3 separate regions of the Homo sapiens genome follow, and regions 2 and 3 are each linked to region 1. The links come from fine-mapping of genetic effects on gene expression. A gene starts in region 1. Each other region holds a variant in brackets. All regions are shown on one strand. Distances are between the middles of the regions.

What was found. PIP is the estimated chance that this variant, and not a neighbour inherited with it, causes the effect. A credible set is the group of variants that fine-mapping cannot tell apart.
Region 2: its variant is the best candidate, but not a certain one, in a credible set for the expression of DIO2 in nasal epithelium (TOPMed, PIP 0.65).
Region 3: its variant is the best candidate, but not a certain one, in a credible set for the expression of DIO2 in thyroid (GTEx, PIP 0.83).

The regions. Positions count from the first base shown.
Region 1 is chr14:80,207,182-80,215,369 of GRCh38, reverse strand. It overlaps DIO2 (iodothyronine deiodinase 2), which reads left to right and starts at 3,866. Exons shown (of 2, transcript NM_013989.5): 1 at 3,866-4,119. The coding sequence starts at 3,898. DIO2-AS1 (DIO2 antisense RNA 1) reads right to left here and starts at 3,951. Exons shown (of 9, transcript NR_038355.1): 1 at 3,882-3,951.
Region 2 is chr14:80,390,816-80,399,003 of GRCh38, reverse strand. DIO2-AS1 (DIO2 antisense RNA 1) reads right to left here. Exons shown (of 9, transcript NR_038355.1): 6 at 4,818-5,021; 7 at 1,825-1,974. Among named protein-coding and RNA genes, the nearest start is that of DIO2, 180 kb to the right of the region's middle. The variant A/G (reference allele first, on the strand shown) is at 3,457.
Region 3 is chr14:80,122,890-80,131,077 of GRCh38, reverse strand. No RefSeq gene overlaps it. Among named protein-coding and RNA genes, the nearest start is that of DIO2-AS1, 84 kb to the left of the region's middle. The variant A/G (reference allele first, on the strand shown) is at 3,347.

The sequences.
Region 1 (8,188 bases):
AAGAAAGTCTTGTGACTCATATGCTTGTTATTTTCCAACCAGAAAGAGGCAACAGTAGGACATGATGCTCTTTTACTATGGGAATATAAAAAAGTTAAACAATTTTGCAAAGGTTTTTTCATAAAAAGCCCAAAGCATTTTGCCCTAGGCTGCTTCTCTTTGGAATTTAAAACCCGTGTGGAATATCGTATGGGGAAATGCAACCGACATGCCCCTCGTTGGTTTGCATTTAACTCATTACATGTTGATTGCTAAGAACACATACATGACCAAGAAGATAGCCAAGCCCTTTGAAAGAACATATGAAATCTAAACAAGGAGCCTGAGTCGGGACAGTCTTAAACAGATGTGAAGTCCTCACAGCCTTTGCCATTTTGAAGATTAAATTACTAGCAAACCACTTTCAACAAGGGTTTTGGTTCTCATAGTAATGACCAGGACCCATAACAGACATTAAAGAAAAAAAGTGAGGCTTATTTAGAGTTAGGGAAAATATCCCAACACCCGCTTGGACTCCCTAATTTTGGTAATCTGCTTTCTCTCATCTATATGATGGGAAAAGTCATACTCTGTCACCTTAGGATTATTCTGTTACTTAATGAGTATAAAATTACTTGAAAATCAATGTGGTAAATATTCTTAATAACTGGAATGAGCAATTGTGCACCATGCATAAAAAAAGAAATAGCTTTGGAGAAATGTAATTTCTTGGATGGACAGATTGTCTATCTGCTAGAGGAATGGCCCTCAGTTTTGTGATGTGTTTATCGTTCATTTAGAAAAATGATTGAAGAAATCTGAGAAATGACATAACCAGATTGGCTGTGTATCTTTTTGTTCTCCTATTTAAAAAAAAATTCCCTTCAAACACTTCTAACCTCAATAAATAAATAAATAAAAAGAAACAAAAGCCCCCAACAGAGTCCTAATTCTAACTTATAACCACTTAAAGTCTGGATATGCTTTGAACTTCACATTTAAAAGAAAGGTTTTTCTGATTTTCTATCAATCCCTCTCCTTAGCTTGCCATTTACAAACATACTTTCCTCCTTCAGAGCAAAAGCAAGTGAGAGAGAATTGGTTTAAAGCTGCTGAAGTCTCCACTGCAGGGGAGCACTGGTTTAATTCAATCAAGGTAGAATGAAGGTCTGAGAAGGGGAGAGATTCTAAGGCCTGGGCAATTGAGTGGAAGCAGCATTTCCTGAGTCTACACCTCCTTCTGCCATTGTTGGTGGGAACTATGGCAATATAGCTTTCACATCTCCACCAGTTAAAATACTGTGCTATCAACTCCCTGCCTTTGTTCTTTCTTTTTTCCCATAAGGACATTGAGTAGTTTGAGAAGATACATGCAGTAAATGTACATTGCATATATTAGTAATATTATTTTGCTAACATTGTATGCTAGTCATAGGGAAGGTGTAATTTTTCTATGTGGTTTATATTATTTTTCTAAGCTTTGAAGTCTTTTAACAATTTCGTCCATGAGATGCAAATTCAAAACTCATTAGGAGCCAAACTAATGAAAAAAATGAAAGAATTTGTAGGGAATGCTGAGGGTTGTGTCACAAGAGAGGGCATTGCACAAGGCCACCACGTTTTACAATTCCAGGGCACCCCCATTCACATCATATTGTATGTGAATGGTGCCCCCTAGTGTAGAGCAATGCAGAGGCCCTCTACATGCCCTGTTCATTCATTCATTCAGGACGTCCTCAATGAGCCAACTGTGCGCCAAGCATGGTTCTAGGTGTTGGGGAGGTAGCAGTGAACAAAGTGGACAAGAATCCCTGCTCTCACGGAACCTAAAGGCATTCTTTTTTGATTATTGTTTTTTTAAAGGCAAAAAAGCAACCTGCCAACCAAACAAAATGCATTAATATGCAGAATTCAGCTAACAGGACGACAAATTAATGACTCTTGTCTAGGCTTTTAAATTATTTCTGTGATCATGAAGGTTTTAGCCACATGGAAAAAATACGCAATACGCTAACCACAAGCTTGCACCTACTGCTTAGCTTATGCCTAAGCTCTGGCTACATAGAAAACTCAGCTATCTATTACCCAGTATCTAAAACTCAGTATCTATCACTGAGAAAACTCAGTGATCTATTAGGTAACACAGGATGAAAAAGTAGAATAAAGTGGGGGTCATGCCATTCTGCCAAAGCATTGTCTGCCTAAATACCTGTCCTAAAGACTCATGGGAGAGGCAAGCCAATGAACAATGGTCAATGTGGCACCTTGAACCAATTCAGTCGGCTCTTAACTTCCCATACATTTAATTAAAATTTTTTTCAAACAAAAAGGAAGATTCCTTAAAGTATCAGGTCTCTTAGGGGTTATGCTAACAGAAGCAGGTGAAACACCAAATTTAAAGAGCTTTCATTAATAATTTCTCAGCCTTATGGCTTCTTAATGCTATTCAATGGAAAGTTTTAATTTTATCTGCAAAATGAAGCTAAAAGAATGTCGCCTAGCTCCTTCCCTGTCTGGAGGAACTTGGATTTTTTTTTTTTTTTTCATTAGAAGCTTGGGTAAAACTAAAAAGAAACCTGTATTCAAGTTTCTGCAAGAAGCTTTAAAGAAATGCTGGGATGGTACTCAAATAGTTTACAAGTTTTCCACCTACAACTCATTTTGCATTTTCTTAAATAAGATAATGACTCAAAAAAATTTAAAGGACCTAGGTCACAGATCTTACAAAGGGTTGGAGTCATGGTATAAAGGTATAAAGATTGTATATAAATGTTCATATTTTCCAAGAAACAGAGCAAAGACCGCCTGTGATAACTCTTCCTTTTTTCTACCTGCCTTCCAGGATCCTTTCTTTCCAAAACCCCTCATAAATTAATGATAATGATAATCAGAAGAGAGAGTGTTGGCCATATCAATCTGCACATTATATTAAATTACTTTTCCCAAAGTTTGGAAGCATTTCCTGAAGGCTGTCAAGGGTATTAGTTTTTTTCTCTCTTTAAATCACAAAGCAAAATTCCACTGTCTCTCCCCAACCCCTTCTAAAAAAAAAAAGTTGTCGAGTTTTGCTTTTCTATTCACTGCAATCCTGGCCAAAGTAAAGCCCTCTTTCTCAATGACGTCAAGATCTTTACCAAGATTAGGCTTTCACTTCTCTATTGCAGCAATTAGCCAGGGAATGTATAAAAGGCGTCAGGGAGACTCACTGGGCTGCAGAGAGAGGCACTTTGCACCACAGACAGATAGCAAGAAGGGAAAGACAGAGAGTGAGAAAAAAGAGGAGTCAGTCGCTCCTGGGGAAGGGAGAGAGTGAGACTGGGAGAAAGAGAAGCACAGAAAGTGTGTGTAAAACGGAGTAAAGAAAGAAAAAAAAAAAACTACCCTTAAAGCACATTTAAAAAAAAAAAAAACTCTGGCAATTCAAGAAAGAAACAGGCTACGTTTAAAGAGCATAGAGACAATGAAAGGCTAAAGAAAATTTTAAAATCTCTGCCACAGTCTCATAGGTGCTTGGAAATGAAAGTAGAACTGCCTGTCTTTAACGGACTCTGACAGAGGTAACTGGATTAGGGACGAGTACGCCAGCTTTTTTTTTTTTTTTTTTTTTTTTTTTTTAACATCTTAAATCCTGAAAAAAAAAAAAAAAAAAAAAAAAAGGCAGCAGCTCCGAATTGAATGAATTGATGGGCACACTCCAACTGCTGGGCTGGAGAGACTGGACTTAGTCTTGCCATTTCTGCTTCTTTGAAAGAGGAGACAACTTGGGCTTCCTTTTAATTTAGTTTTTTTTCCCCTTCTCCCCCAACCCCCAACCTTCCCCCTTACCTCCCCCACCCCCTTTATCACCACCCCCCTTTTAAATAAGAGGGTGAAGGGGAACCAGAGCGCACAAGGGAACTGACTCAGGAGGCAGAGAAGATGGGCATCCTCAGCGTAGACTTGCTGATCACACTGCAAATTCTGCCAGTTTTTTTCTCCAACTGCCTCTTCCTGGCTCTCTATGACTCGGTCATTCTGCTCAAGCACGTGGTGCTGCTGTTGAGCCGCTCCAAGTCCACTCGCGGAGAGTGGCGGCGCATGCTGACCTCAGAGGGACTGCGCTGCGTCTGGAAGAGCTTCCTCCTCGATGCCTACAAACAGGTGAGCTGAGCTGAGAAGGGCTTCTCCCTAGGTCTACAGGGGCAGGGGCTCATATGCTGGGGACCAGAGGCCATTGGGAGCATTGGGGGGAGAGCTGTGAAGCCCTATTTGTGGGGTTGCCAAGTGAGCCTCTAAGTTTACTTTCCACACCTGTTGCACAGGTTAGCTTGGGAGGGTGACAGCTATTAAGCCATAATGACTCTGTGTGACCTAATAAGGAATCTTTCTACTAAGGGTTATTAATATCTTGCTGTGATTTGGGAGTAGAAGGCATTGTGCTGGTACGATAACTTGGGAAAAGTCAGAAAATGATGGAGAAGAGGAGACTGCTGCATTTATTCTGCTCTTGCCATAAACTGGAATTTTGATTTTTTGCTTGATGGGAGGCTGAGGTACACTGAGGAAGTATGTTCGAGGGGTGGGTACTGAAAAGCAAGAAATGAGAAATGCTACTCAGAACTCTCAGAGAGTTGACAAGATAAGAAAGTGGTCATAGAAATTGTGATTGGGCATCATAGCTGCTTGGTTTCTGGTAGAGGTAAGAGTTAATGAAAGCAAGCAGCTGTGTGCCACCTCCTCTACATTGATTCAAATTTGAACCCTTTGGAAGCGATTTTCAGGCAGTGATCCTGAGTTACTAGATATCAACTTGCGAAAGAAAAGTCTGAAAACTAGCTGTCAGAAATCCAGCATTTGTAAGGGAAGCCTCCTTTACTTTGTTTCTCAAAAATAAAATACGTTGCCCTAGAAAGAGATGATGGGTCTGTGATTCATTAAATCTCAGAGCTGTTATGAGCATTAGAGCAGTGGTCTCCCTTACCTGCTCAGGTAGTGCCCAGGGGCTGCTCTCTCAAAATCAGAGGTAGTGATCTTAGTTTCTAAGTGAAAAATACTGTGTTCCAGGCTTTTTGCTGGTGAGAGATGTTAGTAGAGCATTTTCAACTAAGATCTTCAGGGGCACAGAGGATGATTTTCGCCCTGGTCTTTTGTCAGTTTTCCCCCACCTGCTATGCCCATATGACTTCTAAAGGTCCCCTCCACCCCCTCAACCAGGCTTGAGAAGAATGAACTATTTTGGCAAAAGTAGTTATCAAAATAGACAATCTTGGTTTCCCTAAAAGTGTTGTGGGACCTTGCCCAAGATGCCAGAAAAAGCAACTGTACATCTGTATTTTAGAGGAATATAGAAGCCAGGTGTTCAGTGAAGTGGTGTGTTTTAGGCAGGCAGCACCTTAGAACCAGAGACGGGGAACTCGAAATAATAGAGACGCAAGGGAATGCATCCTCCATAAATAAACACTAGAAAACTAAAACCATGCGCCAAGAAAAGAGAAGAAGTAACTTGTAAAATTACAAAGAATTCAGGACAGGATTGTTCTTCTGAAAATCAGATGTTCAAGAAGAAAATATCTGTTGTGAACTAGGGAAATTTTACCACAATGCACGTCTTTATTATTGATAGTAACCCAAAGAGGGTTTGTGTTTATTGTTGTTAAAAATGTGAATAGTAAGAGCTCTTATTAGTAGATGGAAATTCTTTTATGAGAATATGAATTGGTGCTCAAAGTTCTAACAGTAAAAACTCATTTATATTGTGCATGTCAGTGAGGACGGGAGATCTAGAAAAGTAGATATTGAATTGATTATTTCATTTCCACAAAAGTATACATTGAATGGGAAGTTTTTAATGGTTTGTTTTAGTGGAAGGCAATTTGGAGGCAGGTGGAGGAGTACACAAGTATATCAGACATATTATTAATTAGGAAGTTCCCTCTTCAACATCATATTTTATACGTGTTAGCAGATACCATGGAAATATCAGTGATTTGATCTCAGTATATTAAACTCTTACTTTTTGGAAGGACAATTGCCTTTTGCCTATAAAGTAAAAAAAAAAAAACTTATTGGAAGAATTTTACTTATATACATATATTTCTTATATAAATGTCATGTTTCATTAAGAAAAACATGAAAAACAGTCATCTCTCATATAAACAATGGGGGCTGTAATGTTACCCACAAATATTAAGTGAGGTTGTTTCTCCCATTAAGCAGCTTATTGAACATAAAATGGAAAAGCAAACAAATACGTCTTCAATAAAGTTTATTGTTTTTTTCACCAATGTATAGTGTTCCATTATGTTGCAATATGTTGTTATTCCTATTCTAGGAAATTGGGAAGGATGAGTGATTTGTTTTTTCTTTTTGCATATGGTTTGTATATTCCTATTCTGTATTTCTTTGTCCCTGCCTACTGATTTGATTAGTGACCAAGTTCACGACTGATGTTATTATGTTTGCTTTTGATGATTTATGTAATAGCTACCATGTGCAGAAGCAACCCCAGGACCCACATATCCAGAAACAAGACTGGACTGGGTGTGTGATAAATGGAAACATTATGAACACAGCTGCAACTGAATGATGGTCTCTTTTCTGTCTTCAAGTATGGCAAGGGTGGTGGTTTCTGTGGTGGCATTTGAGGGTCACTCAGAATCTCTCAACCAGGTTGAATCACTTCTCTGAATGCTCTTGTCATTTGTGCCACTGTCTTTGGGTGTAGTCATTTCCAGAGACGTTGTAAGAGGTTCTGTTTGAGATGGCATCACACTATTTCATAACCCTGACTTGCATTATTTTGAGGCTACCCATCCCCAGAAGTGAAGTTTTCCAGGATGAGAGGGGTGTGTGCTCATGTGATACAACTACACATGTGATTTACTGTTATTAATTCTCCTTGTTGCTGCATGTCAGATGCCTGGAAAGATATGTAGAGAAAGTGGAGTAAAAGTATTATCCCTGTGTTTTGCCTCCACAAGGGGCAACACAGAAATAAAGAAAGAACAAAATATTTTCTTTTCTTTTTTTTTTAAATAAACCCTTTCTTAAAAGGTTGAAAGGGATTTGAATTAACTTTATGGAGAAGCCTTTAAAGATAATGTGAGTTTAGTAAGAGATGGATTCTGTGTACAATTTTGATTGAAAGGAAAGTCTATAGACACTGGTGAGAGACCCTGAGGTGAATAAAAGGTGTTTGTTATTTAAGTTTCTTTAGTCAGCGTCATTGCATCTGAACAGTATATCCTTGTGCTGGCGCTCAGAGACTAAAAACATGCAACCAATAAGCAAATTGCTCTGTCTGGGAGCCTGGCTCTTACCTAAATGAAGTGTAAAAGTAAACACACAGTATAGATGCTGACAGGCAGTTTAGCTTCTGCACGGTTAATATTGCAGAGGTACAGAAAACATATTCATTTGAACATATAATTTTGGTTTTGAAAGGGTCTCTTTAACATTCTCCTCCTCCTCTTCATTCACCTCAAGCCTTTGACACTAGTTTCCACAATGGAAAATGGCCCTTTTAAGAGAGAAACAGTCCCAAAAGAACACAAAGCAGGCCACAGCCAGAGCTTGTCCATCACTTGGATAAAACATTGGGGAATGATAGAGCTTAGAGCTACATTTTCAAGGTACAAATTAAAAAGAGAATAGCTAAAAGGGAATTGAGCTCAGAGGAAGGAGTACGTAGCCTATTCTTCAACTCTGATTTATTTGGCCAATCTGAATATAAATGGTTAAATCTCTTCTTAATGATAGTTTGGCCATGTTTCTAAGGACATTGATGTAGCCTGGTCATTATGTCAAAGAATTTGAAACTTCCTGATAGTTAATAAAGCCATTTTCAGGGCTTTGGATAGCAAGTAGTATGTGTGAAAATTCTGCTACCACACACCCACCCTTCATTTTTATAATTTGCTTTAGTTTCTGTTATGAGATTATGTGATATATTGTCCACAAGGCTTTCTCAGGCTGTGGAAAAGAAAAAGAAATAAAATCCCAAAACAAGAAACAAGGTTAGTAGTATATGCTGTATTTTCTGCTTCTACTTGATGAATGGTTCTTTTCTCCCCCTTGCCCTGCATTTCACAGTCCACATGCTAAAGCAGCATTTCCTTTTTCCCCATGCACTGAACACTGAACATCATCAAGGGAATCAAATTTTTATATATGCTATATGTTTATGTTCATGTTCATATTTATAAAGATTTCCATTCCAACATTTGAACTT
Region 2 (8,188 bases), 180 kb before region 1:
TCTTGCTTCTAACTTCCATGCTGTCCTTGTTCATTGATGGTGGACCAAACTTATTTTGGGAGGAACTTCGTTTATAGTTTACCTTTGAAGTAAAGATAATAGCCCTTTCCCAAAACAAACCCATTTCCTGCCTGGGGACTATATTGTCTTTATAGGACTAACAAATTTGCCACAAGATTATTACAGTTTAGGAGTCATGTAGCCAGAGGCTGCAAGATTCTGAACCTCCCCAGATTGCTTCTAGGGATAACATCACTGTTGTAAAACTTAAGATCAGTGCTTGAGATATTTTTGCAGACCTTTTTCAGTACTTGACATCACATGACTGCAAAGCTGAAAATATTTACTATCAATAATATAGTAAAATATTTGCTAACAGTACTTTGTTTCAAAGTTTACTGAACAATAACTCAGTGTTCTATTCTTGCCGTGTTAGTTAACAAGTTTATACTGAACTAATTTGTTAAATATTAAATTCCTTCAGTTCAAATAACTGATATAGTTTCTGTCTCCTGCTTGGACCCTGACTGATACAGAAATTGATTCCACAAGTGATCTCAGGTAACAGACACTCCAAAATGGGATTTCAAAATTGGTTTCTTCATGTTCTTGGGTTTGAACACAATGCTGAAATTATATACTAGTAATCTATGGCATGTAGTAGCAATTCATTCAATCAAATTACCACTATTAGTGATTGTGATGAAGTGCCTGCTGAGACAACTGCCTAAGAAGCTGCTGAACTTGACCATTATGGCAGTAACAATGATTATAAGAACTTTGGTGTGGAATGGGTTTTCTGATAGCACTGAATCTCTTATAAAAAGAAAATGACAAACTCATAGACTCAGAGAGCTTCTACTGCTTCCCTAAAAGAATATTTTATTTCCACAGGGATAAGGTATTAGTTCATTTTCATGCTGCTAATAAAGACAGACCCAAGACTGAATAATTTATAAAAGGAAGAGGTTTAATGAACTCACAGTTCCACATGGATGAGGAGGCCTCACAATCATGGCAGAAGGCAAAGGAGAAGCAAAGGCACATCTTACATGGTGGCAGGCAAGAGAGCTTATGTGGGGGAACTCCCCTTTAAAAAACCATCAGAACTCATGAGACTTATTCACTATCAAGAGAACACCATGGGGAAGACCTGCTCCCAGGATTCAATTACCTCCCACCAGGCCCCTCACACAACATATGGGAATTATGGGAGCTACAATTCAAGATGAGATTTGGGTGGGGACACTGCCAAACCACGTCAGCTAACAGTGCTAAAAATCAAACACAAAATTTAATTGGGCAGGTTAATTATAACAAAAGTAAATTTATACCTTTTCCAAATCCCTCATGTCTGATCTGAGGGAAAAATGCATCCCTATCAGTCTGCTGAGATCTATCAACCCCTTCTCTGACTATTGCTTTAGATGCATAAAATAAAATTAAATAAAATATATAGAAATAGAAAATAAAATATGAAACCAATTATATTGGAATACAGTAACCAAATGTTTTAAAAAGCATGTTATTTACATTAATGGTTTAAAGAACAATATCTAGTGGTAAGTCTTATAAGGGAAATACATTTGAATATTTTTTGACATGTCTGCACCAACTATAATTTAATATGAAATATCTATGATTTCTATTGTTGATAAAGTCATGGGTAATGATAATACAAATGCTCCTTGACTTACGATGGAGTTATATCCCAATAAACCCATAATAATTTGAATATCTTAAGTTTAAGATGCATTTAATGCGACAGACTACAGAACATCATAGCTTAGTGTAGCCTACCTTAAACATGCTGTGAATATTTACCTTAGCCTACAGTTGGGCAAAATCATCTGGGAACATAGTACATGGTAGAGTATCAGTTGGTTACCCTTATGGTCATGTGGCCAACTGGAATCTGAGGCTCGCTACCGCTGCTCAAAATCGTGACAGAGTATCATACTATGTATTGCTAGCCTGGGGGAAAAAACCAAAATTCAAAATCTGAAGTATAGTTTCTACTGAATGCAAATTGCTTTTGCACCATTGTAAAGTTGAAAAATCACAAGTCCGGTATAAGTAAAATCCTAAGTCTGGGACCCTGTAGTACAGATTGATTATTTGCCAATATTTTTATTATTGAAAAAAAAATCTTAAATTTCAGTTGCGTTAATAAAACAAGGATGTATTTTTTTTATTCTTTAAGTTTACTCATCTTCTGAATTACATTCATGTACTCCAATTTAAGAATCGCTGTTTTAGCAGTATAGGTATTCTTGAGAAGTTAGCTAAATTAGTCGAAGTTAATTAGAGAAGCACCAAGGTTGGAGGGTTCCTTTAGTCTCCTTTTAAGTCTTTCTACTTACAACTCACCTTTGTATCTTCGTTTCTTACCTCAGTGATCTCTTCATCTAGGAAACTGGATAAAGTACATCTATGTGCATCTATATTCCCCAGGACTTTTGCTATCAAAGCATTTATGATACTTTACTATTAAAGTACTTTAGAGTACTGTACATTCCCCATCAAAGGGGATATGACACTGCTCATTTGCCTTTATGTATTCTCTCCACTGGACTATAAGCTGACTCCTATTACGGATCATGTCTTGCTTGTTCTTGTTATGTCGAGTACAGGGCCTGCTCAATCTATATTTGTGAATAAACAAGTGAATGAATAGAGGAATTTCAAGGTGGAAATAATTTTTTCTTTTATTCATGGCCAAAGGCCTTGACTAGGTATTTTATAAACATGTTGCCATGAGTGGAGATAGAAGAGAGACTGTGATCAACATGTCAATACAAATCTGCCCACGCCTGGAACCTACTGACAGTGATGCAGTAGATGTACCACTTACTGGGGTGGGCAATGTTGGTGTCCTACCCAGCGTTTCTTCCATTTTTTTCTTGCAAATACACTTATAATTTGTTTTTCAATATCAGTATGACATGCATGTACATCAGGGGAGACTGAATCCCTCCTTAGCTGTGGGAGTGGAGATGAGTCTTGATTAGCTCTCTAGTCACAGTAATTGCCATTGAAAGAACATGATTGGTTTAGGCATGGGCATATGATACAACTATGGAGAATGAAGTGTGGTGGCAAGTGTGCTGAAGGGTTTCTAGGAAAGGATAAAAGGACATGCATGGGAGGCAACATTCCTGTTTTCCTCCCTTTCAAAATGGTTATAAGGAGACGATGCGTAGAACTGATGTAACCACAGTGTGATGATGAGAGGAGCAGCTGACTGTCTGAGAATGGCAATGTGGAAAAATCGAAAGAAAGTAGGTCATTTGATGTCGTTGAGATATTGTATTCACTGCTGTACTTGCTATGTGACAACCAGTGTCTTTGTTGTTTAAGCCAGTTTTTGATTGGCTTTTTTTTCTTACTAACATCTCAACGTGTCATATCTGCCTGAGTTTTATAAGTGAGGGGCAGCTTCTCTAATACCCATGC[A/G]CAGATGTGATAGGGAATTCATTCTGCTGAGATTTTGATACTTCAGAATAACAGAAGTCTGCCACAGTATGCAGGGATTCTTTTAGAGCTACAAAACTCTAGCAGACTAATTTGGAAAGTGGGTAGGGTGCCGGCAACTTCTGAAGCTCACCAAGTAAGAACATTTAAGTCTGGGTGATAAGCACATAAGCATTTGTAGGTGAACTAACCCCAAACACCCTTTTCAAACCGAAATATGCAATGGAGAGGCATTCTTCTGCAGCATGTTATGTGTTACCATGTTATGAAACAGGCTTTGACATTTGGATGTCTACCACTTGGTGAGTGGTTAGTTATAAAATGCTATTGGTTCAACAGATTATACTTCTGGAAAAAAGCCTGGACTTCTGGGATCTTTTTAGTGGCTGGTTTATTTGTATTTCCAAGGCCATTTTTCCAATAAGCCAACACAATCAAATTACATGCAGCTTTGAAGACTTTCTACCTTACAGTTTGACATTTTAATTAGGACTTTAAAGAGATAATAATCACAGCCCACAACTTCCCTAATGTTACCTAGAAATGGGCCAGTTAATTAGGATCCCAGAAAAACCACTGCATACATTTCTTTTTAATTGTTTTTCCAAGCTTCCATCACCACATCTCTTGGCTTCACCTCAGACCAAATCAAACAAACAGCAGGGAAATGTTTGATCTCTCTGGCCTTCAAAAAATCTAAGGGTGCAAATAATTCAGTTTGTGTCTACCATCTAAAAATGTATGTTTCACCCAACATAAGACATTTTTCTTTCATTTCAGGATTGCTTTTGAAGGGAAAACCATGCTAGTTCATTTCACTAGCTTATTCTCTGTGGAAGTGATTAAGATCCTGTTCACCTGATCCCTTTGGTTCTTATATCTAGATTTCATTTTTCTTTATCTTTTCTAGGGTAGCATTATGAATGGGTGGTCCCAGTAAAGAATGTTTTAATGCTCACAGACTGCATTTAAATTCCTTCTAAGGGAATTTTTATAAGGTGGAAGGAAACATGAGTCCATCTATTATTGAGAAACAAAGGGGCCCAGGGTGTCATAGCAATTCAAGAAATGAATTCTGTACTTTTGGGTGGGTTATGTGTAACAGGATGCTCTCTGCCTCACCAAGCCTTGTCCCTCCCTATCCCTTGGGTCAATATACAAGAATGGAAATGTGGTAAATGTCTAGAGTTGTTTGTCTAATGCTCTGATGTGTTTGGATACATTTAGGAGGGAGACGTGATTGCTGCTTCTCACAAAGTGTTTAAGGAGTGTAATAATATGCCACTTTGTCATGCTGCCAGGCAAGTACCTTTAGAGTCACTTTTGAACCTGATTACATGTACCTCAGTCTCCGGTTGGATGATTGGTTATGGCATTTATCTCAGTTTCTGAGTCCAGATATTACAAAGTTCCTTTAGTTAAATAGTTGGGCTACTGGTGGTTAATGTGAAGGATATCCTAAGCTTGCAACTTCATTGATGACTTCATTTTCATCATCATGCTAAATGGATTAACTTCAGTCTTGCTTGTTGTCAGAAGCAGATATACTGTGAAGTAAATGAAACTCAAGCTTTAGACTCCTCACTTGCTCGGGCCCCTTCCAAGTCTCAACAAGAGCTCTTGAGGTGCATTGATGTGATCATATGTTCTTGTAAAATTAAAAAAACATAAAATACTAGCAATCAGTTATGAACACAGTGATTTTCACAAGCACTTTTGCATCCACAATTTTGTACTCTTTTTCTTAGTGAGGGGACTCCCAAATTGCATAACTGTTAAGCCCAGCAAACCTGGATTTGTCTCTGCTTCTTATATAGGTAATATACTTTATTTAAGGTTGTAGGTTCTTGGTTAGAAGAGTGTGATGTGTCCAGATAGTTACAGGGTCACTTTTCAAGGTATCTGTCTAGGCAAAGGAGTGTCCCTGAAGTAGGAAGAGTTTGCTTGGAATGTTCTTATTTTCTTGTCTACTTGTTTCCCTGAGATTTCTCCAAATTTGGTATATTTCTCTGATCTTAAAGGCTTAAATGAGTTAAGATATGGGTAGCATTTAGGACAGTGGATGCACATGGTAAGTTTTCAGTGAATGCTAGCTATTATTATTGTATTTGTTTTCTCCAAATCTTGTAGTCTTGTGTTGTGTGTCTTTTTCTAGCTAATAACTTTATTTAGAGAACCAAGCTCAGTTATTATCACCTTGAGAAATGCCCCATTTCCCAGATGCATCACTTGGGTTTTTTTTTCTACTATTAAAAATATTTCTGGCATTATTTTCAAACATCTTGAAGAATAATCTAGTAAAATATTCTACAATGGACTACTGAAAGCTGATGATGGCTGAATAGAGTGACCCAAGATGTCATAGTGAAAGAGCATAGGGTTTAAATGCTGGCTCCACTGCATCCCATCTAGGTGACCACCCTCATTTCACTTCCTTTATCTTAGAAGAAAATGAGATAATACTTTATAAGGATGTTTTAGATACATACAGGGAAATCACAATATCTATAACAGCCTAGACACTGAATGAATAGCTATCGTTATTGTAATCAGGCCATTCTTGATGACTGTGCATCTGAGCCCCAAGAAAGGCATCTTTAATAGAGAAATTCAGAAGATGATTTTCTGTCAGTTGGGGAGATATTCAGAGGCATGGTGATGTGTCTAGTGTTTCTTAAATCTGATGTAGTTAAAATGTCTATGCCTATGAATAGCTTTGTGTTTTCTAAGATACAGGATAGAAAGCAATGATAATATAATATTCTAGCATACTTAGAAATACCGGTAACTCATAGGTCATTTTATAGGGTCTTACAGGAATTGGATTAGAAATTGTAAATCTAGCTAATGGAGTTTGAAGCCTATTCGAATTTGATAAAAATATAATCAGAAATGAAATCTGAATTTATTTGCCTGATTGATCTAACTTTATACTAGATTTCTGTACAAATTTAAGTAATGATTGGTAATGGTTAAAGATTTGTGACATAGCACTTCCAGGCAAATACGGTTAAGAATTAGTGAGAAAGAATTTGCAGGAAAATATGTTTCTCCAATCTCATTTGGATTTCATTCCACCCATCTTCACTCACAATCAGGCACTTAAATTACTGATTTCTACCTTACCTGAAAAATGTGATAAAAATAGCTATAGTATTCCCTTAATGTGCTTGGATAAATTATTTTTTATTATTGATTTATTTGTTTTTATATGAAACAGTCTCTTAATCTCTTTGTCTAATAGGTCTAAAATTGATAAAACTTTCTTTTGAACTTGAAGATATCTGTAGTTTCAAGGGTGTTAGACCTAGTTGGGCATGTCTACACTAACACACATAAACAAAATGGAGAAATTGCTACATGAGAGTATATGGAGCTTTTAAAAACATAAATATGTATCAGATATAAAATATGTAAAATTATAGACTATGAACTTCTTAAGGGCAGCATCTAGCAAAATGCCTGGAACATACAAATGCTCAATATGTATTTGTTAACTAAGTCAACAAATCAATTGGTTTAAACAGAATTAAATGGAATAGTTTGGACCTTATAGAAAAAACTCATGAAATATATTGGAAAATGTGAATATTTGATCCTCTTAGAGGAGTATCAGCAATTTTAGGGGATCAGAGATTTTAGGGTATAGTGAACAGAAAGGCCAACTGCCTCATTTTACACGAGGGAGTCAGTTGGCCAATTTGGTCTCATGCTCTTGACGCTATAGATATCTTCAAGTTCAGAAGAATGTGTTATTAATTTGGGTCCCATTAGACAAAGAAATTAAGAGACAATCTATCCGTTTCATGTAAAAACAAAACAAAACAAGAATAACAAGCAGTTTATCCAAGTAAAATAACTTGTTTAAATAAGAGATGGAACCAGGAGATGGTATAGAAAGCAAATTGAGGTTCACATGGAAACATTCCCATATGTTGTTTCTCCACGTAAATCAGTAAATGATAAGCAGAACTTCTGGGATAATATTGAGAAAATAAGTGCTATGTCAATGACAAGACTTGGTTTCTTCTAAAATTATTTGTCCTTACTTATAGTTACCAATTTCTTTCAGATTAACTCCCAAGGATTGTCCAGACACTTTTGTTAAAAGGAAAACCTATTGTATTGTGTATTGCCTAAATAAAAAAAAACTCATAATCATAGTTAAGAGGTATGAAAATGTCTATCTTTCAAAGGTTTTCATTGTAATGAGGTTTGACATACATCATGCCTATAGTGAAAAGTGCAAATTTAGAAGAAGGTGAACGATGGCAAGTCAGTTTTATACAATTGACAAAACCTGAAGGACAACCACCCACATGGCTCTCATCACTGTCAAAACCCATTTAGCTGAAAAGGAAAGAAAGAGAACAAAACAAAAGAGCACCATGCTTTTGAGGTGGAGACATACTGTGCTACAGGAATGCAGGGTTTCCAGACTGTATATGTCTGTGTTTGTGTGTGACATAGTCTTGACTCACTGGGTACCTGGGTCCTCCTCTGTTTGAGGAATTTGACTTTCTTAACCCTATGCAAAGCTACTTGCTGCAGAGCACAACAAAGCTGGCTATGTGCCAGCTCAAATAACAGCAACTTTTTAAGTCCCCAAGGAAATTTAGCTTCAGCCACATTCTTGAATTCCTTTGAGCAGCCCTCTGGGCTGATGCTTCTTAGAGATCTTCTCTTCAGTAGCAGTTATGAGGCTAGCAAGGTC
Region 3 (8,188 bases), 84 kb after region 1:
CTCAAGTAGGAAATTAGCACTCCTTTGGATATTCTGTAGTTATTTCTCAGAGTACCCAAGAAAATACTTCTCTTATATTCATAAGACAATCTTTTAACTGCAGCAATGTTTTGGTGGCTACTATGTTTTTCCTTTCCTGAACCAGTAATTACTGCTTACCTGCAGTCTCTATAAAGCACCTGGAAAAAAGCACATTATTTTTGTGAGAAATTCAGTATTTAAGCCTATGGTAGACTTGATTTATTAGTGCCCTTCCTTCACAATTGAATCTCGCTTCCTTGTGTATGTTCTTGCTTTATCCCCTTCCATGTTGATTCTGGGCTAGACCATGTGACTTGCTTTGAGCAAAGGGATATAAGCAAACATGATTCAGGCAGAGGCTCAATAAGTGCTTGTACGATGGGTCGTATTCTATCAGAGTATTATTTTTTGGAAACCAGTTGTCATGAAAGAACTTTTACAACTTTGTGACTACCATGCTGTAAGGAACATTGAGAAGGAGAGATGAGCCAGAATTTCTGACTGACAGAACTGTGAAGAAATAAAATGGTTGCTTTTTTAAGCTACTAAGTTTTGGGAAGTAGTTTGTTAGGCAGCTATAGTAGATAACCTCAGGGTTCCAGAATGGGGCTCGGCCTGTATAGAGGTAGCTAAAATGGCTTCTTTCTAAAAGTTACCCAAGCAGAGCTGCTTCTTTTTGTGTGATTCACTCAATCTTATAACACAATTTTGTCAGTTTCATTACTTTCTAACTACATAGGGTGTTAAAAGAGAGTGTGGGAATGGGGAAACAGACTGTGTTACCCTTTCTTTACCCAAATCACTTTAATATAGACCCTGACCTGCAATTAAACTTTATCTTCTCCAATTAACTGGCCAAAACATTAGACCATCCTCCCACAACTTTTTGCATATTAAAGGCAACAAAGAAATGATTGAGGTGGCAGGTAGGTCAGTGGATACCATTTGACTAAACTGACAGAATTAAGGCCTCAGCTCCCTGATAAAATGTTCTCTGAAAATTGCAATCACATTTTTAGTTTTTAAGAAACCTCCATACTATTCTCCATAGTGGTTATACTAATTTACATTCCCACCAACAGTGTATGAGGAGTGCCCTATCTCCACATCCTTGCCAGCATTCATTATCGCCTATTTTTTTAAAAAAAACCATTTTAACTAGGATGAGATTATATGTCATTGTAGTTTTGATTTGCATTTCTCAAATCAAATTTGAGCATTTTTAGTGATGTTGAACATTTTTTCATATGCCTTTTGGCCATTCATAAGTCTTCTTTTGAGAAATGTCTATTCAGACCCTTTTCCATTTTTTTAATCAGATTATTTTTCTCTATTGAGTTGTTTGAACTCTTTATATATTCTGGTTATTAATCTCTTGTCAAATGAGTAGTTTGCAGATATTTTCTCCCATTCTGTGGGTTGTCTCTTCAATTCGGATTATTTCTTTGAGCAGAAGCTTTTTAGCTTAATGTGATCCAAATTGTCCATTTTTGCTTTAGTTGCCTGTGCTTTTAAGAACTTACTCAAGAAATCTTTGTCCAGATCTATGTTCTGGATGTCCTCAATGTTTTCTTGTAATAGTTTCATAGTTTCAGACCCCAAATTAAAGTCTTTAATAAATTTTAATTTTATTTTTGTGTATGGTAAGAGACGGGGTCTAGTTTCATTCTTCTACGTATGGGTATCTAGTTTTCCCAGCACCATTTATTGAAGAAACTATCCTTTCTCCAATGTGTATGTGTTTGGTACTTTTGTTGAAAATTAGTTAACTTTAAATGTGTGGAGTTATGTCTGGAGTTATTCTGTTCCATAGGTCTAAGTATCTGTTTTTATGTCAGTACCACAATGTTTCAGTTACCATAGCTTTGAAGTATAATTTGAAGTCAGGAAATGAGATTCCTCTAATTTTGTTCTTTTTGCTCAGGATGGCTTTGGCTATTCTGGTCTTTTGTGGTTTTGTATATATTTTAGGATTACAATTTCACTGCTGGTTACATATTCAAAAGAAAGAAAGTCAGTATATTGAATAGATATCTGTACTCCTATGTTAATTGCAGCACTATTTACAGTAGCCAAGATATAGAATCAATCTGAGTGTCCATCAATGGAAGAATGAATGAATGGATAATGAAAATGTGGTGTATATACACAGTGGAATATTATTCAGCCATAAAAAGAACAAAACCCTGTCATTTGTAACAACATAGATGGAACTGGGAGACATTATGTTAAGTGAAATAAACCAGGCACAGGAAGACAGATATCACATATTCTCGCTCATATGTGAGAGCTAAAAAAAATATTTTTTTTGAACTCATGGAGATAGAGAGTAGAGTGACGGTTACTAGAGACTAGAAAAGATAGCAGGGAGAGGGGGCTGAAATGGTAATAGTTAGTGGGTACAAAAGTACAGTTAGATAAAATGAATATGATCTAGTATTTGGTAGCACAATTGGGTGATTATAGCTAACAAGAATTTATTGCTTATTTTAAAATAATGAAAAGAGAGAAATTGGACTGTTTCTAACACAAAGAAATGATAAATGCTTGAGGTGATGGATACTCCATTTACCAAGAGTGAAATTGGAATGTTTCCAACACAAAGAAATGATAAATGCTTGAGGTGATGCATACTTCAATTACCCTGATTTGATCATTACACATTGTATGCTTGTATGAAAACATCACATGTACCCAATAACATATACAACTATTATGTACCCATAATAATTAAAAATAAAAATAAAAAGTCAATCACAATTACTGATCGTTTTATAATGTCCCTATTGCTCATTTTATAATTGTCCTATTGCGAAGATAAAAGAGAATTTTATCTTAACAAATACATGCTGCATGTCTTACTAGGGCATAAACTTTCCCTCTGTACTAATTCTCCAGATTAAGCTAGATCTGGGTGGAAGTGGAGGCTCACTTTTCCTGTTTGTTAATATTTCCACATGGAAAGGATTCCACTTAATACCATGCTCTGAATACCTTGAATCTGAGTGTGGAGGCACCTTGAGGACTTAGAAACTGTATTAGACAGAAAACTTTCAGTTGCAGGGGCTTGAAATTTCACTGAAGCAAAAATGGAGAGATTCTTATCTCACATAATGGTAAAGCTCAGGAATAGATCTGACTTTAAGCAGAAGGTGATCTCGAAGCTCAAAAAAGGTCATCTGCATCAAGAATTTATTGCTTTTTCTCTCTCTGTCTCCATGTGGAGACACTTACTCATCAGCTTTGAGCTTACATCCTGCCATATTAATGTCCCAGAGAATAAAGGGCATTCAGTTCCAATAATTTAAGCAAAAGTCCCAGGTAT[A/G]ACTTTCATTGACCTTAATTAGGTCACATGCTCATCATTGAACCAGTCACTGTGGCCAAAGTTTGCACAGGCCAGGTCCTCATGTCCACTCCTGGAATCTCACTTGCATCACTGAGATGGGAATATTTTTACAATAAAGGGAAACAGACCTTAATCAGCCAGAAAAGATAGATGCCTGCTATGGAAAAGAAAAAAAAAAAGGTCCCTGATGCCAAGTTCTAGTTCATTGTTCAAAATTCCAATTATGGACATCCTGAAGAAAAGTTATATTTTTCACTGTAACTTCATGATTCTTTGGCTGATGAAGAGGAGCCAGAGAAAGGCATTTTGGATTGTGATGCAATGCTGTTCAGTGGTGTTAGCCACCAGGAGTTCCACTGTATTCACCGCTGCATTTGAATTTCCAGGTGGCTTCTGCAGCCAAAAGGACGCCCTTCCATCTTTGCTGGCCAGGGTTCTGACTCCTTGCTTCTTAGACATTGATTTGGCCAAGATAACTGGTGTACCTCTCACAGATTCTCTCAGGGATTGACTTGCATTTTATGGATATGGGATTTGTATCCATGTAGAGTAAGATTTGACTCTTACTCTGCATGGAATACAGGAGTTCCCCAATGAGAAAGGCAAAGCCCTGGGCTTTGTGTTATTCCATTGTTCTCTTGGTCTCAATCCCTGATTCCAAGATGGCTTCACTCAAGGCTGTGACAATTTTCTTTGAGACCTAAATTAGAATGGGACATGGAATAATCAGCTGGCAGGCTTCTCTGCCCCAGAATGGAGTCCACCTGGCTGCTGCACAGCAAATAATGCCACAATCTGGTTGAACCGAGAGGTCGAATTTACCCAGAAAGAAGCCCAAGCCTTCATAATGGTTCTTTCACAAGTTCTAGGATTCTTGTACACAACCTGAGATTATTAATGAAAAAAATATAGATTGATTATATAAATCTGTGTTTGACAGATTAGAAGAATGAGGTTGTGTGGTGGAAACCTTTTGTTAGTCCAGAATCCAGTACCTTTACTTTTGAGACTTACAGAATAATGACACGTATGATTTCCTTTTAACCATTGCCTGTCTCTCACTTTTAGTCTATTTCATATAAGATGTGCCTATGCCCCACTTCAGGGATGAGCACCTTAACCACAACCAACCTTAGAAATATATTCTATTTTCTTAACATGCTAGTTGGTTCAGAGTTGGACATATGATCCAATTTGTATTAATGGGAGGACTTTTTCATAATTTTTAGAAGAGTCAATGCACTCTTACTGCTGCTTATGAAGCTAGGAAGATGCAACCCATGAGTTAATTTAAAAGAGCCACAGTTTTGGAGAAGATATCACCAATGGTGATGTCAATATGAAGGAGGGCAGAATTTAAAAAATGGAGAGAGGGACCTCAATCTGTTTTTTGTTTTTGTTTTTGTTTTGTTTTGTTTTGTTTTTTGAGACAGGGTCTCACTCTGTTGACCAGGATGGAGTGCAGTGGCATGATCTTGGCTCACTGCAGCCTCCGCCTCCGGGGTTGAAGTGATTCTCAATACCTTGGCCTCCTGAGTAGCTGGGATTACAGGTGTGCACCACCACTCCTGGCTAATTTTTGTATTTTCAATAGAGGCGGGGTTTCACCGTTTTGGCCAGGCAGAAAGACCTTGTTCTTATGGCATTGTTTGAATCCCCAGATCCAGATATGCCTGAAGTCAGTTTCTACATACAAAGACTGATAATTTATTCCTTTGACTTAAGCCAATCTGAAGGCTGAAGATGCATCACTGTGAAATTTAAGCAGCAACCCCTAAATTCCTTCCACCCTAGACTAGCCACTGTGACCCACAGACTGTGGAATCAGAGGCGGGGATAACTGAATAGGAGGTCCACAGTGGATTTTGGTTCATTTTCACATAGAACATACAAATAAACAACTGTATTTTATCACAAGAGATTCTTAATTGGCTATTGCACCTCTGCTTTTCATTAATCAATTCTTCATGTTGTAGTTAGAAGTGAGTATTTCAACATGCAAATCTGATCATGCCACTAGCTCTTCAGAGAGTCCTCAAAGCTTGTAGAACAAGTTCAAACACCTCAACATGTGTACAAGACCCTTTGTTTCCTAATATCTGTTTATTTCACCAGCTGCTACAGTTCCAGGTTCTCTCTCACCTGCTATCTGCCTGTCTTGTTTTCCTTTACCAACATACTACTTTCTCTTTGAGTCTAAGTCCTTTTTTGTCCTTTTTTTTTTTTAAGACATAGTCTTGCTATGTCACCCTGGCTAGAGTGCAGTGGTGTGATCTCGGCTCACTGTAACCTCCACCTCCTGAGTTCAAGTGATTCTCCTGGCTCAGCCTCCCGAGTAGCTGGGACTACAAGTGCATGCCACCATGCCCAGCTAATTTTTTTGTATTTCTTTTAGTAGAGATGGGGTTTTGCCATCTCTAGGGTGGTCTCGATCTCCTGACCTGGTTAGCTAGGATGGTCTCGATCTCCTGACCTCGTGATCCACCTGCCTCAGTCTCCCAAAGTGCTGGGATTACAGGAGTGAGCCATTGCGCCCAGTTGGGTCTAAGTCTTAGTGCCACTTCCTGAATAACTAGGTTACAAGATCCTTGGTCTTTGCTTCTATATCAGAACACTTAGACAATGGAAGATGGTAATTATGATATAGTATGTTGTCCCACGAACTACCCTATACATTCCATTTGGGCAGGGATCATGACTACCTCATTACCCCTATATTTACAGAACGTAGGTGGTGCTTAGCCTACATTGCTAAATAAATGACTAATGAGTGAATACATCTTTGTATCAACTTGGAGCCAACTTTTCAAACATTATAGACTAACTTAAACTATTAGCTCATATTAGTGCATTTCTTTTTGAAGACCAGAATGAGGAATTAGTGAGGAAACCCATTGTCCTTTCATGAATTTCTGTGGAGGAGAGGACTGCTTCTTTTCTCCCGATAAGCTAAGGAGTTGTTTAGAATAAACACCTTGGCTCACTTTCTGTATCTTTCTTACTTTTCCCCTAGGATAAGGAGTCATGAATTTGAATAGTGAGAACTCCTCTTCCAGTGGGCCACAGTTTTCTAGGGAGAGCACTACTAACAATAGAAATGCCTTTCTGTCTTGACCTCTTGGACTGAATGTGCTCAGATGCAGCAGGCATGCCTGCCCTCTAGTCCTCTCCTTTGCTTCTGATCCTCAAGCATTAAATCCACTTCGGTGGAGGTGGTGGCTGCCAATCTCTGGCTTCTTAAATGTGCCTAGATAGATAAGTCAAACAGAGCCAGCTATCTTTAATACAGGGCATAGTGGCTTGAGTAGCGATCCTCAAAATGTATGTTCAGGTGCTAACCTCCAGAACCTGTGAAAGTGATCTTATTTGGAAAAGGAGTTGTGTTAGGCTATTCTTGCATTGTTATAAAGGAACACCTGAAGCTGGATAACATAAAGAAAAGGAGTTTAATTGGCTCATGGTCCTGGCAGACTGCACAGCACACATGGCACTGGCATCTCCTCATATTCTGGTGAGACTTTAGGAAGCTCGCAGACATGGCAGAAGGCCAAAGGGGAGCAGGCACATCATATAGTGAGAGCCAGAGTAAGAGAGTGAGGAAGAAGGTGCCACACACTTTTAAACAACTAAATCTCCTGTGAACTGAGAGAGAGATCACTTATCACCAAAGGGATGGCACTAAACCATTCATGAAAGATCCACCCATATAATCTGATCACTTTATTCCATGCCACACCACCACCAACATTGAGAATCACATTTCAATATGAGATTTGGAGGGGACAAACATCCAAACCACATCATTCTGCCTCTGGACCCACAAATCTCATGTCCTTCTCACATTCCGAAATACATTCATGTCTTTCTAAAGTTCCTTGAAGTCTTAACTCATCCCAGCATTAACTCAAAAGTCCCAAGTCTCAAGTCTCATCTGAAGATGAGTTTCTCCCACCTGTGAGCCTCTGAGATAATAAATAAGTAAGTTATTTATTCCCAAGATACAATGGTGGCACAGGCATTGGGTATAAATTACCATTCCAAAAGGGAGAATTGGCCAAAAGAAAAAGGCTACAGGCCCCATATCAGTCTGAAACCCAGCAGAGCAGTCATTACAGCTTAAACCCCCAAAGAATCTCCTTTAATTCCATATTCTGCATCTATGGCACACTGGTGCAAAGGGTGGGCTCCCAAGGCCACACACAGCTCTACCCATGTGGCTTTGCAGGGTGCAGCCCCCATGGCTGCTCTCATGAGTTAGAGTTGGTTGCCTGCAGCTTTTCCAGGCTCAAGACGCAGGCTGCCATGAAACAACTATTCTCAGGTTTGGAGGGCGGTAGCCCTCTTCCCACAGCTCCACTAGGCAGTGCCCTGATGGAGACTCTGTGTGTGGGCTCCAACTCCACATTTGTCTTCAGCACTGCCCTAGCAGAGGTTTTCTGTGGAGGCTCCACTCTTGTAGCAGATTTCTGCCTGGGCGCCTGGGCTCCTGGGCTTTTCCACGAATCTTCTGAAATCTAGGGGGAAGCTGCCAAGTCTCCTTTATGATTGCATTCTGTATGCCCACAGGCTTAACACCATGTGGAAACTGCTAGGGTTCATGGTGGCTTGCATTCCCCAAGCAGCAGCCTAAGCTTTGAGCACTTTGAGCTGAGGCTGGAGCCAGAGCACCTGATTGTGGGGAGCAGTGTGCTGAGGCTGTGTAGGACAATGAGGCCCTGGGCCTGATCTACTAAACCAATTTTTCCTCTTAGGCCTCTGGGCCTATAATGGGAGGGTGGTGTATTAGTCTTTCCTCTTGGGCCTCTGGGCCTATAATGGGAT